4 linked regions of the Homo sapiens genome follow. The protein of the gene in region 3 purifies or fractionates together with the protein of the main gene of each other region. This does not show direct contact. Each region holds a gene or a part of one and is shown on either strand. Other genes may lie near its edges.

The links.
Region 1: the proteins of ALS2 (region 3) and CHN1 purify together in Homo sapiens (affinity purification with mass spectrometry, with the first as the bait; one large-scale study listed by BioGRID). This does not show direct contact.
Region 2: the proteins of ALS2 (region 3) and RBM6 purify together in Homo sapiens (affinity purification with mass spectrometry; one large-scale study listed by BioGRID and IntAct). This does not show direct contact.
Region 4: the proteins of ALS2 (region 3) and CHN2 purify together in Homo sapiens (affinity purification with mass spectrometry; one large-scale study listed by BioGRID and IntAct). This does not show direct contact.

What each region holds. Positions count from the first base shown.
Region 1 is NC_000002.12:174,802,823-174,806,387, forward strand, and holds part of CHN1 (N-chimaerin), read right to left. Parts: intron 1-3,565. UniProt on the Homo sapiens protein: GTPase-activating protein for p21-rac and a phorbol ester receptor. Involved in the assembly of neuronal locomotor circuits as a direct effector of EPHA4 in axon guidance.
Region 2 is NC_000003.12:49,938,823-49,943,009, reverse strand, and holds the start of RBM6 (RNA-binding protein 6), read right to left. Parts: upstream 2,861-4,187; 5' UTR 2,785-2,860; exon of another isoform or gene 2,626-2,784; intron 1-2,625. UniProt on the Homo sapiens protein: Specifically binds poly(G) RNA homopolymers in vitro.
Region 3 is NC_000002.12:201,770,931-201,774,495, reverse strand, and holds part of ALS2 (alsin), read left to right. Parts: intron 1-3,565. UniProt on the Homo sapiens protein: May act as a GTPase regulator. Controls survival and growth of spinal motoneurons.
Region 4 is NC_000007.14:29,193,373-29,197,608, reverse strand, and holds the start of CHN2 (beta-chimaerin), read right to left. Parts: upstream 2,835-4,236; 5' UTR 2,668-2,834; coding exon 2,619-2,667; intron 2,533-2,618; exon of another isoform or gene 2,158-2,532; intron 1-2,157.

The sequences.
Region 1 (3,565 bases), about 27 Mb from region 3:
AGGTCAGGAGTTTGAGACCAGCCTGGCCAACATGGTGAAACCCCGTCTCTACTAAAAATACAAAAATTAGCCAGGTGTGGTGGCGGGTGCCTGTAATCCCAGCTACTTGGGAAGCTGAGGCAGGAGAATTACTTGAACCCAGGAGGTGGAGGTTGCAGTGAGCCAGGATTGCATCACTGTGCTCTAAGCCTGGGTGACAGAGCAAGAATCCATCTTGGGGGGGAATTAAAAAAAGGTGGGTTTCAAGGTAATTTCAATGAGACTCCATGCTGCTGAGTCCTAATCAGGGTGGTGGCCTTGAAATGCTAGGAAGACTACATCTGACCAGAATGCACAAGATAAAAAATCCTAGTGTTTCTAACTTATAAAACAAACCAACTCAATAGTAATGAATTGAAGTCAGGTAAAAATTGGCGTGAGATGAATGTAAAAATTTCCTAGCACTGGTAAAGCAGATTTGATAAATTTCAGAAACTGAACAATGACTGAAGCTTTTTAATTCAAACAAATTTTGACCATTTTACAATCTCTACCCCAAATTTCTTCACAGTTCCTGGCTCATTTCTTTGAATGAAGAATGTATTTGCTTTTTGCCATGATAAAAAATGTATGGTCTCTGAACTTTGGGGCCTTTAAAAAGTGCCAATTTATAACAGTAGTGCCAGCTCAGATACTGAAATTTAATCATTGAATTTCTAGAATAAAAGACGAATACTCCACTTACTATAAAAACCACTAGTTAGGGTTTTTGTTCTTTGAGACAGCTCTGTCACCCAGGCTGAAGTGCAGGGGCATGATGATGGCTCACTGCAGCCTCGACTTCCTGGGCTCAGGTGATCCTCCTGCCTCAGCCTTCCAAGTAGCTGGGACTGTGGGTGTGTACCACCATGTCCAGCTAAATGTTAATTTTTTATGGAGACAAGGTCTCACTATGTTGCCCAGGCTGGTCTCAAACTCCTGGGCTCAAGCGATCCTCCTGCCTCAGCTTCTCAAAGTGCTGGGATTACAGGTGTAAACCACTGCACGCAGCTCTAGTTTTTACTACAGGATAAATTAATTTGAAGCTACACAAATCTGGAAATTAAAAAAAGAACCCAGTTTCCTTTTAATTTCCACAGTTAATCTCTGTAGGGAGAACTGTGAGATAGTGTTGTCGGGTGAGCAAAAAACATCTCCTGCACATGGGGAGCTTACTTGCTACTGAGGGTGACTGACAATAAACCATGAATATGATATATTATAGTTACACTCTATTAGAATGAGGCAAGTGCAATGGGAAAAACAGCAGCATAAGCATTGGAAGTGTTGGGGGCGTTGCAATTTTAAGTGGGGTGGTCAGGATAGACCTCAATGGGAATGAGCCATGTGGAGATCTGGAGAAAGACAGTGCTGGTGGAGGAGGAGCCATGCAGAGATCCTGAGGGGAGAGTACGCCTATAATGTTTGAGGAAAAGTGGGGAGCCAATTGTGGCTGCAGTAGAGTGAGTGAAGAGGGGGATATTAGCAGGTGTGGTCAGAAGGGCAACAGGGCACTCAATCATGTCAAGGGATGTAGGCTATTTTAAGGATTTAGTGTTTACTAAGAGAAATGGGAAGGTTATCAACAAGGAAAGGTCATGATGTGACATGTATTTTTCAGTTATCTGTACTCTGGCTGCCTAGTGGAAAACAGACTGTGGAAGGCAAAGAATAAAAGCAGAGAGACCATTCCAGTAATTATTAAAAACATCCAGGTGAAGAATGACAGTAGCTTGGACCAGGGGGTAGCAATGAAGGTAATAAGAATTTGTTGGATTCTGGGTATATTTTGAAGGTTGAGTTCATTGGATTCCTGATGAAGGATGCATGAGAAACAGAAGAATCATGAATGATCCAGGTTTTTGGCTTCAGCAGCAGCGAGGACGAGGCCTCTATTAACTGAGATTGGAAAGACTGTGGGTGGAGGAGGTTTGGTGGAGAAAAGTTCCATTTGAGATGCCTGTCAGGCATTCAAATGAACATGCTGACTGTGGATTAATCTGGTGTTCAGGTAGAGGACATTTACATCTCCAGGCTGGAGATATACATTTGGAAACAAATGACAAAATGCACTGAATATACTGAGATCAAATTGGCAGACATTCTTCTCCAGAACTCATTTCTCCTTTTCTTCCACTTACAAAAGTATTACCCATTACCATTTTTTATAGAACACAACTCTTTAGCTATAAGAAGCATAATTTAAGAGAGAAATAGACAAAATGGAATGTATTCAGAGATGAATGACCATCATCAGTTGTCAAATATACAAAATACACATGGAATAAGGGTGATGTCAAGAACACTGCCAATGGGAGAGAGTTATGAAATAAAAACAGGCAGATTTCTATTGTACACAGAAGGGCTTCATAACTGTTACATCTGTCCACCAGTGGACTGGCTGCCTCTGGAAGCAGTGAGTGAGCCTTGCAGCAACTAAATATTTCAAAAAGAATGTTTTATAGAAGACAGTCTAGCTGCATGACCCCTTAGAATATGTGCAAACTCTAACATCCTACCGTTCTCAATATAAAATTATAAGTTGACTTATTCAACAAATATTTATTATACCTATTACGTAAGTAAGGGACTATCACAGGTACTGTGGGAAAAGGAACATGAGCAAGAACTCCTCCCTTTAAAAGGGATTCCGGTGAAGTAGGAAGACAAAACGTAATTACAACCTTCCAGCATGAAGGAAGGAGGCAGTAAAGATGTCCAAGTAGAGGTGATGGGAATCAGAGGAGAAAGATGGTCTGCAGCTGAGAGGTCCAGGGAAGAGCAGATGGCATTAGAGGAGGGCCTGGAAGGATCTGGAAAATGTGAACATTGTCCGAGAAGGAAATAAAGACTCTAAGCCCATAAAGATCTAATTAAAAGCTCTTCTACAGTATGTCTAGTTAATTTTACACAGAGAAACTTGAATACAAGAAGATTAAAACTTAGCAAAAGGGGCAGCTCAGTGGCAGAGCTGAGGAAATACTAACAAGTTCTCCTTCCCAGGCTTCTCTTCCAGAGATTTCAAGTTGCTTGGGACCAAGAACCCTGGGCTTTGAGTTGATCTCAAGGTTACACACTGAGACATGTAGCTTTTTGAAGCTGCTCTGGGAACAGAGTTCTCAGAATCCTTGGCCAGAGGAAGATTTCTCCCCTCATTACCACAGGGAGCTCAACTTTGGCAGTGCTGTTTCCATCGTGACCAGGAAGCATCCATAATGTTGGGTTACTGGAGGCTCTGTGACAAGCACCTGTCCTTTTATTCTAGGGCAGCAATGTCTTAACTGCAGGGGGAGGGAGTAAGGAAGGTGGGGGTGAGTGAACACAGACTTCAGGTGGGTTCATCAGGGAGTTTCCAGGGGCTTTGGAAGAACTTCCAGCTGTAGCATGGGATGACCTGGCCTTCTCCACCCTTGCTTTCCTTTTTCATTTCTTGCAGTCACCCCCTTCCAGCTTTTAAGCTACAGGTTCCTCCAAGAAAGCTGCAAAAGCAGAGCTCAAACAGCTTTTGTAGAAGAAAGGTTTAATGTAAATTCTGATATTTTGTTGG
Region 2 (4,187 bases), on a different chromosome or scaffold from region 3:
AAAGGACAATACTGTATGATTCCATTTAGTATTTGCAGTACCTAGAACAAGCACACTCACAGACAGACACAAAGTAGATTAGAGATTAAGAGGAGGAAATGGGAAGTTAACTTGTTTAATGGTTACAGTTTCTTTTTTTCTTTTTTTTTGAGATGGAGTCTGGCTGTGCAGCCCAGGCTGAAGTGCAATGGCATGACCTCAGCTCACTGCAACCTCTGCCTCCTTAGTAGCTGGTGTTACAGATGCATGCCACCATGCATGGCTAATTTTTGTATTTTTAGTAGATACGGGGTTTCACCATGTTGGCCAGGCTGTTCTTGAACTCCTGAACTCAAGTGATCTGCCCACGTTGACCTCCCAAAGTGCTGGGATTACAGGCGTGAGCCACCATGCCCTCCCTGGTTACAGAGTTTCTGTTTGAGATACTAAAGTTTCAGAAATAGTGGTATTGCTTGTACTACATTGTGAATGTAATTAATACCATTGAATTGTATACTTTTTTTTTTTTTTTTTGAGATGGAGTCTCGGAGTCTCGCTCTGTTGCCCAGGCTGGAGTGCAGTGGCGCAATCTCGGCTCACTGCAAGCTCCGCCTCTCGGGTTCACACCATTCTCCTGCCTCAGCCTCCTGAGTACCTGGGACTACAGGCGCCCACCACCACGCACGGCTCATTTTTTGTATTTTTAGTAGAGATGGGGTTTCACCGTGTTAGCCAGGATGGTCTCGATCTCCTGACCTCGTGATCCGCCCACCTCGGCGTCCCAAAGTGCTGGGATTACAGGCGTGAGCCACCGTGCCTGGCTGAATTGTATACTTAACAATGGTTTAAAGAGCAAATTTTGTTAAAATATACATAAACATACATAAAAATATATATTTACCACAATTTATTTAATTGATTTTTTTTTTTTTGAGACAGTCTTGTTCTGTGGCCCAGGTTGGAGTGCAGTGGCACTATCTCCCCTTACTACAACCTCTACCTCCCCGGCTCAAGCGATTTTTCCATCTCAGCCTCCTGAGTAGTTAGGGCTAACAGGAGCATGCCACCACGCCTGGCTAATTTTTTTTTTTTGTATTTTTTGTAGAGACAGGGTTTTGCGATGTTGCCCAGGCTCACAATTTGTTTTAGAAATACTATAACAGGGCCGGGCACGGTGGCTCACGCCTGTAATCCCAGCACTTTGGGAGGCCAAGGCAGGTGGATCACCTGAGGTCAGTAGTTCAAGACCAGCCTGGCCAACATAGCGAAACTCCGCCTCTACTAAAAAAATACAAAAAATTAGCTGGGCATAAGGCGAAACGCTGCCTCTACTATGTTGGTTTTTGTTGAGTTTTGCGGGTTTTTTTTTTTTTTTTTTTTTTTTTTTTTTGAGACAGAGTTTCACTCTTGTGGCCCAGGCTGGAGTGCAATGGAGCAATCTCAGCTCACCGCAACCTCCGCCTCCCAGGTTCAAGCGATTCTCCTGCCTCAGCCTCCCAAGTAGCTGGGATTACAGGCATGTGCCACCATGCCCGGCTAATTTTGTACTTTTAGTAGAGACGCGGTTTCTCCATGTTAGTCAGGCTGGTCTCGAACTCCCCACCTCAGCCTCCCAAAGTGCTGGGATTACAGGTGTGAGCCACCAGGCTCGGCCTGGTAATAGAATTCTATAAGGAAAGGTGCTACAACTATCCAGAGAGACCTGGGACCTGTCCTGCAGGTTAGGTATCTAGTTAGATGCTAGTTTCTGAGACAAGGTTCAAATTCAACTTTTGTGTTTCACCAAAATGGTAACATATTATTTAGTTACTTTCTTCACTGCCAGTCCTACCATCACGCACCAGCTCTTGACACCTCTCGTTAGAGACCTCACAAATTCAGTAATGGTGACATATTTAAATCATTCACGCTGGTGGCATTTCTCAATAGGAAGGTGGAAACTAGCAAGCCGAGGGCACAATCCAGGGTTCAGAAAATGAACCAGGTGACCATGTCTGCATGTCTACTGAACTCCTTCACTTAAATCCGGCTACTCTGACCTTCACAAGCAAACCTGGAATATGCAAAAAATACAATTACGCTCACGGTTTATGTACCCTACGAAACAGGGCCCTTCCTTCAAAAAAAAAAAAAAAAAAAAGGCATTCCCAAAGTTGAACCCATTCGCCTAACGTCAATTCTAAAATAAAGAGAAAAACATCTATTTACACCGCTAATGGAATCTAAAGCGTGAATACGATAAAACATCCTTCTCCTTCATTGCCTAACGGGCGCAGAACCCACCAGACCACTCTCCCGCTTCCAGGTTCTACCGCCCCGACGACCGGGCTCGGAGCTCTTGTGCCCTCCGGTCCAGCGGAGCCTCCCTTGTGTCTGTCCAAGTCTGAGGACGAGGCTACGTGCTAAGCACAAGAGCTCCCTTCCTAGTGATGCCACAGAATTGGATCTGAAACAGGAAAACCGCAAGAACAGCCCGCTTACAGCTCCGAAGAGTAGGAGCACAGAGCCGCAACCACGCGCCGGCCCCAGCCTCACAGCTGGCCGCTCCGCGGCGGGACCGGTAATCTACTGCCGCGCCGGGCCCCGCCCCAGGCCCGCGACGGTTCCGGGGCGTTCCTGCCACGGGCGGCGCCTCCCTCATCTCACCGTTGCTTGGTCTTCTTCCCGAGCGAGGCCGCAGCCGCCCCGCGACACTGAAGCCACAGCTTTCAGGCTGCGCGGGCCTGCGATGTCTAGAGCGGGCCTGTCTGCTGGCTATTCCCTGGCAGGCTCTGGCACGCCTCCCCTCCAGTCCCGGGCCCTTACCTAGGCGGCGAAGCCTCCACGGCCCGCTCCTCCTTCTCCTCAGCCTCCGCCACCGACCCAGCGCCGCGGACACCGGAACTTCCTCCGCGCGGGGCCACTGCTACCACAAAGGCGCCGCGCCGCTGCCTTCAGCGCTCGGCCCGCTGGGAGATGAAGTACAGCTGCCGGTCCCGCAGACTCTTACTCCCGCCGTGCCCCGCGCGCAGGGGACTTGCCTTCTGGGGTGGGTCGTAAGAGCACGCTGTCCATCGCCATCCAATAAGAAGGCGCGCTTACCCGCCCTACTCCGCGTGACCTGCTGGGAGTTGTGGTTTGGCCTCTGCCCTGTGACACCTGGTCCTCTTGTGCTTTCCTCTCAGTTGATTGAGGCTTACAGTTTTTTGGTGGCTTGACTTTCCTGAGGTTTGCTCCCTGCCAGCAGCTCGGGTACGGCCCTGGCCTGCCTAGCTCGAGGCCTCCTTATTGTCCGTTAGTGTGAGAGAAATGGAAGGGAGCTTCTTCGGGAGTAAGTTTAAGCCATCTCCAGCTGGTTGGCGGGGCGCGGTGGCTCACGCCTGTAATCCCAGCACTTTGGTAGGCCGCGGCGAGTGGACCACCTGAGGTCAGGAGTTCTAGACCAGCCTGGCCAACATGGTGAAACCCCATCTCTACCAAAAATACAAAAATTACCCGGGCTTGGTGGCAGGTGCCTGTAATCCCAGCTACTCGGGAGGCTGAGGCAGGAGAATCACTTAAACCCGGGAGGCAGAGGCAGAGGTTGCAGTGAGCCGACACTGTGCCACTGCACTCCAGCCTGGACAATAGAGCAAGACTCCACCTCAGAAAAAAAGAAAGAAAGAAAAAGGCCGGGCGCAGTGGCTCATGCTTGTAATCCTAGCACTTTGGGAGGCCGAGGTGGGTGGATCACGAGGTCAGGAGTTCAAGACCAGCCTGGCCAAGATAGTGAAACCCCATCGCTACTAAAAATACAAAAAGTAGCCAGGCGTGGTGGCGCATGCCTGTAATCCCAGCTACTCAGGAGGCTGAGGCAGAGAATTGCTTGAACCCGGGAAGCACAGGTTGCAGTGAGCCGAGATCGCGCCACTGCACTGTTGCCTGGCAACAGCGCAAGACTCCGTCTCAAAAGAAAGAAAGAAAGAAAGAAGTTGGGCGCAGTGGCTCACGACTGTAATCCCAGCACTGTGGGAGGCCGAGGCGGGTGGATCACGAGGTCAGGAGATCAAGACCATCCTGGCTAACACGATGAAACCCTGTCTCTACTAAAAACACAAAAAATTAGTGGAGCGTGGTGGCGGGCACCTGTAGTCCCAGCTACTCAGGAGGCTGAGGCAGGAGAATGACGTGAACCCGGGAGGCGGAGCTTGCAGTGAGTCGAGATAGCGCCACTGCACTCCAGCCTAGGC
Region 3 (3,565 bases):
TACAAAAATGTATAGCAGGGTGGGATAAAATAAAGAAACAGACTATACAACATGCATACTGTGAAGTCCTCTTCACTTCCAGGTACCATCATATGGAACCCTTATCCTCCCACCACAAAATGTATAATTCTGCTTATATCTGTACCTGTGATCTCTCTTCTTTCAAAAACGTAGACCTTTCTTCTTATGAAAAAAACAATCCCCCCACATATATTCTGGATGGCATCCTCCTTCACTTTGTCTGGGACTTTGGCTCTGCCCACTGTCCTCATCATCCTTGTATCCAGGACCACAGCCTTTGTCATGCAGACATATTCAGCTTCCTCCCATCTCCCCAACCTCCAGCAAAAGAAAACCCTTCATTTTCACATTCCCCTTCAGCTACTGCTCCATTTCTTTGTTTGCCATTTCAACATTTTTCAAAAGGATCACCCACTGAAAATAAAGATATTTCCACATTGTCACCTCCTGTTTATATTCAGCTTACTTCAATCTGGTTTTCAGTGCCCAAACAAACCACTGAGATTGTGGCCATGCTCAGCCGTTACCTGTGTTGGCAAATCCAATGGACACTTTAGTTATCTTACAAGACCCCAGCTGCCTTGACCTAATTGACGTCCTCCCTGAAGTGCTTTCCTTTGCTTTCATGTGCCCACGGCAGACCACTTCTCAGTCTCAGTCCTCTTTGTCCGATCCTCATCCTATCCAACTTCCAGGCGCAGGAGCTCCTTAAAGCTTGACACTGCGCTTTCCTTTCTCTTTCCATATACCCAATGACATTATCTATTGTCTTGTTTTTAAACACTATCCATACGCCCTCCCAAGTTTAGCAGCTGCTGAGACTTTTCTCTTGAACTCCATGTTCATATATTCAGCTATTCACTTAATATGTACTCTTGGGTTTCTCACAGACATCTTGAACTTAAAAATAAATTTTATCCTACCAGAATCTTATCTTTGCTTCAGAATCGTATCTCCCTCACTCTTGCCCATTTCAGGAAATGGAGCCACCAACACACAGCTATTTGAGGCAGAACCAGGGATCATTTCTGATACCTGCTTCTCCTTGGTCCCCCACCTTTGTCTAATCACCAAGTACTAGTTGTTCTGCCCCCAGAGCATCTCTCATTTATTCACCTCTTCTTCACCAAATTGGCAGCATTGTATGAAACTTAAGAACCCAGGCTTCCTTCCTCCATTGAGAAGATGAGCCGATGGAGTATTTGCAGGCAGGATATTCCTTGCAAAAATTCATTTTGGTGCTCCGTGAGTGTTCACCATAAAATTGGTTTAAAACTTTTGAAACAAATGTAAATCGTCATTGAAATAAATCATTGGCCCTTCGCATTGGCTCACGCCTGTAATCCCAGCACTTTGGGAGTCCAAGGTGGGCAGGTCACAAGGTCAGGATTTCAAGACCAGTCTGGGCAACATAGTGAAACCCTGTCTCTACTAAAAATACAAAAATTAGCCAGGTGTGGTGGTGTGCACCTGTAATCCCAGCTACTCGGGAGGCTGAGGCAGGAGAATCATGTGAACCCAGGAGGTGGAGGTTGCAGTGAGCTGAGATCATGCCATTGCACTCTAGCCCAGGCGACAGTGCAAGACTCCATCTCAAAAATGAAAAAAAAAAAAAAAAAAAAAATCATGAAAGCATCCATAGACTGTCCCACTGGAAGCAATGCAACTCCCCAGTGTACTCTCCAAAATGAAGTAAATGTTCAAAGTACATAAAAGAAACCAAGTTAAGTATAAAATAGTTAAAAGTTTTGAGACTTCTACTAAAAAACGATAGTTGTTTTTGAATATAGATTCCTGGTCCTTTATTCAAAACCCTTGGGGCAAGGTGCATTTTGGAATTCAGATTTATGTTTTGTTCTTTAGAGTAAGATGCATAAACTATATATTATATAACACTTCCTGTGGGATCTGTGGTGCTGCCCTATTCATACTGATATTTCTACAACACGATGTATGAATATTCACACTAAAGGGATAAAAGTGATAAATAACCTCATATCAGTTCAGGTCAGATTTTGCTGTCAGATGAGTTCAGGTCAGATTAGATTTTGCCACCAAAAGTGTTATTGAAAAAACTTTTAATTTTCAGAGCTATAGATTTCTGGTTAAGGTATTGTAGACCTGTAAGATGGTTGTAGCTCATCTTTCTAACAGTTGGGACATCTAGACTAGATTGTTGTTGTTGTTGTTGTTGTTAAGGGCACTTCCAGATCATGGTATTAAAATGATATCCTTGGCTCGTACAGGACAACTTATTTCTCTGTTAGATGTAACAGAAGGATGTGTATCCAGTGGAGTCTAAAAGTGGCATCAGTTTATTAAGAAGCAAGGTTTGCTCTTTGTTTAAAGGGCCCCCTGGGGTTTTGTTACTTTACATATCACTGTGAAGGAGATAATAATTTGAAGGATAGAGTGGTATGCTTTAAAGTGAATCTAGCTGTGTCCTGCGGTTCAGAAGACTGAAGTCTGGTTTGCTCATTTTACGGAGATGCCATTTATCTGTGGAGAGGCCATGCAAGGTAAGAGAGGGTCCCACAGTAAATGCTGTTTATGCAACATCACATGGCTTCTTTATCAGAGCTGGTTAACAGGTCTATGCAGGAAAGTTACTGTAACAGAAGAAAAGCAGCAGAGTACAAGGATCTTGCCCTCTTAAGGAATGATAAAGACCTTAAAGCTTCTCTGGAAGAAATATCCCCAGAGGAAGTTTTATGATTAGGCAATTTTATAAAAACTTAAAATGTTAAAGCAATGAAATAACATACAGAAATTTGAATGCTATTTGACTGGTTGAGGTGAGTCTTAATAGATTTCCTGGAGAGACAATCATAAAAATATTAGAAAGACAAAAGTTTTTCATTTACTTTCTTTTCCTGGATGGATACGTAATTGAGAAAGAATGTTAGATTAAATAGAGTTGGTAAATACCACCCTTACTTAAGTATATGAGGATAAAACTTTAATAACATAAGATCCCCACATTTAGTTGCAATATTCCTTTTTAGTTATGTTTCCTCAGCAATCAGTTTTCTTCATTGCCCTATTGGAGTTTCAGGCAGACGTATCTTGTTGGAAGATGTCAAACATATTAAACACCATTAAAACAAAATGAGATAGGGGCCGGGCGCGGTGGCTCAAGGTGGCTCATACCTGTAATCCCAGCACTTTGGGAGGCCGAGGCAGGTGGATCACCTGAGGTCAGGAGTTCGAGACCAGCCTGGCCAACATGGTGAAACCCCGTCTCTACTAAAAATACAAAAATTAGCTAGGCGTAATGGCGGGTGCCTGTAATCCCAGCTACTCGGGAGGCTGAGGCAGGAGAATTGCTTGAACCTGGGAGGCGGAGGTTGCAATGAACCGAGAGCGTGCCATTGCACTCCAGCCTGGGTGACAAGAGCAAAACTCCGTCTCAAAAAAAAAAAAAAAAAAAAATCTGTAAATACTGATGTAAAAAGATGTCTGTGAAATAATATATTAGTTTTCTACTGCAGCTGCAACAAATTGTTATGAACTTAGTGGCTTAAAATAACACAAATAAATATAT
Region 4 (4,236 bases), on a different chromosome or scaffold from region 3:
TTGGATTCATGTCTCCACCTAAATTCTGAGCCCGTGAATGCCTTCTTTTTCATTCCTCAAAGAAGTAAAATTTATTCACATTAAGCATTTATTAAATGCTAGGCCCTGTGCTAAATACTCCACACACATTATTTCATTCAATCCCCAAGACACTCTACCAAGTAGGTCTTATCATCAGTATCAGCCTCATTTACAAAAGAGGAAATTGAGGCTTGGAGAAGTTAAGTAACTCACTCCAAGATACCCAGCTGGTCGGTGATGAAGCCAGAATTAAAAGACAATACTCCCAGAACTTCAGAGCTAGAGGGAATCCTACAATTATCTTTCCCCCTTAGCCTTCTTGAAGCTGAGGTTTATAACTTACTGCCTGGCACATAGTAGGCCCTTGAAAATAGTGATTAATACATTGACGGAGTGCCCTAATTTCTCAGATTCTGGCCTTCCCCTGAGAGAGCCCAGCTGCCACCACAAATAGACTCTATTCTTTCTGCCCAACACCTCTCACAGGTGTGAATTGCTTGTGTCATCTGAATTATTCATGATCCACACAATGGTAAGTGTGCTTTAAAAGAGAACTACAATGCTGTATTTTTCAAGACAAAGTGCCTGATTAATTGGGGAATTAGGCAGTATAAACTCATGGGCTAGGCTGATTCATGCCAAACAATACATCCATGCCCACTTTTTGAATTTCAGTTTTCACATAATTTCCCATTTTCCCTTAGGATTAAAAATAGGGGTAAATAAAGCAGGAAAAAGAACTATCATGGGCATCTCTAACCTATCTGAAAGCAATTACCATCATCTAAATCTCATACTGTGTTGTTTCAAACCAACGTATTCTTCCGAAGGCTGACTTAGGATTTTCAATCAGGTTTCTTAAGCTACATCAAGATCTGGAAATTCAGATGCCACAGCAGCTGTAATTCATGCCACCAGTAAATCATGTGACACCACCAGCTCCTTGTCCTTTCTCCTTTCGTCTTTTCTTTTGCCCCACCAGTTCATTTTCTAGTGGGCAGTTTTCTGAGAGGGATAACCATATGCTAATAGAAAGCCAACACCACTGTATTTTAAATTCAATGTTAGTCAACCAAAATGAATTGAAAAACAGCAGCAGTGGTTTGAGGGTACTAAAAATAAACTGTAGCATTTGCTGAGTTCTCAGAATTAAAACCACGGCGGTCAACTTGTTGCTGCTCTTAATAAGATATGACTTCTGCCCCATTGGCTGCCACTACTAGAAACTTGAACTATATCACACACCTAACAACAACGTGTTTTCAATTAGTTGGCAGTGATCGAGAAAGGAAGTGCCATTTCCCAGGAAGTAAATCTGCCAAGAAAGATAACAGATGGCTTTCAAGTGATCACCTTGTGCCACATCACAATTGCACCTTAGTCAAATTCACCTTGCATTTATGATTTAGTGAGTTACACATCTAAAGCTGTGGTTGCCTTTTTGCCCTGCTTGCTATCCAATGCCTCCAAAAAGGTGTTTCTTCCTTTGAGTTTAATTCGCGAATAATAATAAAAACAGCCCAATGGGACTTAATACAATATTAATATATTGAAGCACTTCCATTAGGACTTCATGACCTTCTTGACCCTTAAATACTGTATACTACCCTAAATGTCTTATCAGCTATCCCTTTGGGTTTGTCATTAAAGTTTTCAATGACCAGAGAGGTACAGGAATTCTACCTAATGCATCATTCTGATTAGAAACCTGTCATACTCAGAAACCAGTGGGTCTGCCTCTATTGATTCCTACTCCTTCAGATTCATTAGCAATTTTTTTCTCTTCAATTAGACCCGATGATCAACCATAGAAAAGCTGAAAGAAGCCTTCCCTTTGCTCAACCATTCTTAAAAGGAAAAAAAATGCATGCCTTGCTAGTGAAATTACAGCCACTATTATCAGAAAATCTCTAAGGAGTCTCTCTCTCTCTCTCTCTCACACACACACACACACACACTCTCTCTCTCTCTCTCTCTCTCTCTCTCTCTCTCGTAAATGTGCCAAGAGTCAGAGGATGGGCTCGACCTCTCTTCCCCTAACCCACTTCAATCAGGATCAGAAAGATACATCCCTTCATTGCTGCTGTCTAAAACCCATGCCCAAGCGAGTGTCTCCATAGAGCTAATTTCTGAAACAAACAAAGAAAATCAAGTCTGCGAGGAGCGAGGGTTTGCTCCCCTCTGCTCCGGATTTGGGTGTCCAGGGTAGCGGGCGCGGCACGGCAAACAGGTCGGGGCGCTCTGCTTCACCCCAACCTTCTCCGCCCCGCCAGCCCCCGCTCCAGCTGCGCCAGAAAGTGCGAGCCTGCCCGCTCCTTTCGCTTTTCGCTCGCTGCACTCCAAGCCCCGGAACACCCGCGTCCGCACACTAAGGGCACCACCGCTCTCCCACCTCTGCGCTGTCAGATGTCAGGCGCGGAGGTGCTCTGGGCACCGAGGTGCTGGCGAACCAAACAAGTATCACCCCGGACGCCTGCCCCCATTCCGAGAGAGCGGGCGGGATGGCCACAGGTAGGCTCTGTCCATCCCAGGCTGCGGGGCGAGGGCAGTGGGGCGAGACCCGGCGCGGCAGCAGCGCCCGACGGGCTGAAACTCACCGGAGGACACCGACGAGCCGGACAGGCTGGAGTTGCTGGACGCTGCCATCTCCGCGCGCCCCTCGCGTCGCTGCTCGCTCAGCCCCGGTGCGGACGCCGCCGCCGCTGCCCTCGCCCGGCCGCTCGCAGCCTCCGCGGCCCCCAGCCCATGGCAAAGTCCTGGGGACGCGCAGAAAGCACCAGCCTCCGGACTCTGCCTGCACTTCCTGCTCCACCAGATGACGCGCTGCCGCCGCCGCTATTTATTTGTGGTTTCCGTCCCGCTCCGCGCCTTTGCACGCTTTTCTATGGGTGTCAGGGGGTAGGTGGGAGCAGAGGGAGGCCGAGGGGCAGCCGGGACGGGCGGATCTCGGCTCCCGCCGAGCCCCTCTGCCGTCCACGCTCCCCTGTGCGCGGCTGGGACCAGGGCGTCCTGGCAGCTCCGAGCCGCCCCGCCAGCTCCCGCACCCTCTCCTGGGCTCCCGCCTCTCCCGCCGCACTTCGAGTAGACCGGGCAGAGGCGGCGGGAGACGGACAGACAGAGCGACCTCCCCCTTCTCCCTCCGCCCCAACTCCGCTCGCGCACACACAAAGGAAGAAGAGGAGACGCGGTCGCTCGGGGGGTGGTTCGGCTGCTGCGGGCTTGACAGCTCCCGCCACTGGGGCTGGAGGGGGAGGCTGCGGACTGCTGGACAGGGGGAGGCGGGACGGGGGACCGGGTCCCCGGGGTGCTGGGGAGGCCGGGGCCGGGCGCGGGGCGAGCGCGGCTGCTGCGCGCAGCGCTGCTCCTAGGATTTGAAGGGGATGGGGAGGGAGGGTGTGGGGGAAGGTGGTGGGGCTCACCGCGCCCCGCCGGGCTCTCGAGCAGCGAGACAGTGGGGGTGGGGGATCCAGAGGGCGAAGGCGGGATCACTAGGGCCACGGTGCTAGGCAGAAGGGAACCTGGGATGACAGAGCCACTATGGAGCGCTCCTTCCACTCCTCTCCAAATTGTCCTTTGTTGCTCTGGAGCTGACGGTCCCTGCCCTGCAAGAAGGTGCGTTTCCTAAAACACCCGGGAAGCCAACCCAGCTACACTTAAGTAACCCAGCCACGGACAGTGCCCGACGCGTCCGTGGGCCTCTGAGGTTGGCCTTCAAAGAAATAGAGCCGTCCAAACGTGTCATCAGGCCCACACAAAGCTGGTGTCAAAGAGAAAGAGGTTCTCCGTGCCTTGCAAAAAAAGATTCTCACAAAAGACTTAAGACTTGGCAGCAGGTCCGACTGTGCCCTTTCAGGATAGGAACTGCTCAGGTGTGTGAGAGAAAGAGACTCGAGCACAAGGTGTGTCCCTTCCCCCTGTATTTAAACCTAAATTAATTTCACTGGGAGGAAATACCATGCAGATTTTTTTTAAGTCTGTTTCACGCTCCCAGCGGGCTAATCGGTTCTTTCAATCCTAAAGCAACAGAAAACTGTGAAATTTGAAGAGAAATTGTTAGATCAAAGGAAAAAGCAAACATTAAAGGAATGAAAGTACTCTCATTATATAGCAAAAATGGAAAGTGTTCACATTGGGGTAGTTCAACTTTTTAAAACATGGTTAAAAGAACATAGTCAATTTAAAAATTATCAGGAGTGACACAGAACAGCAGCTAGG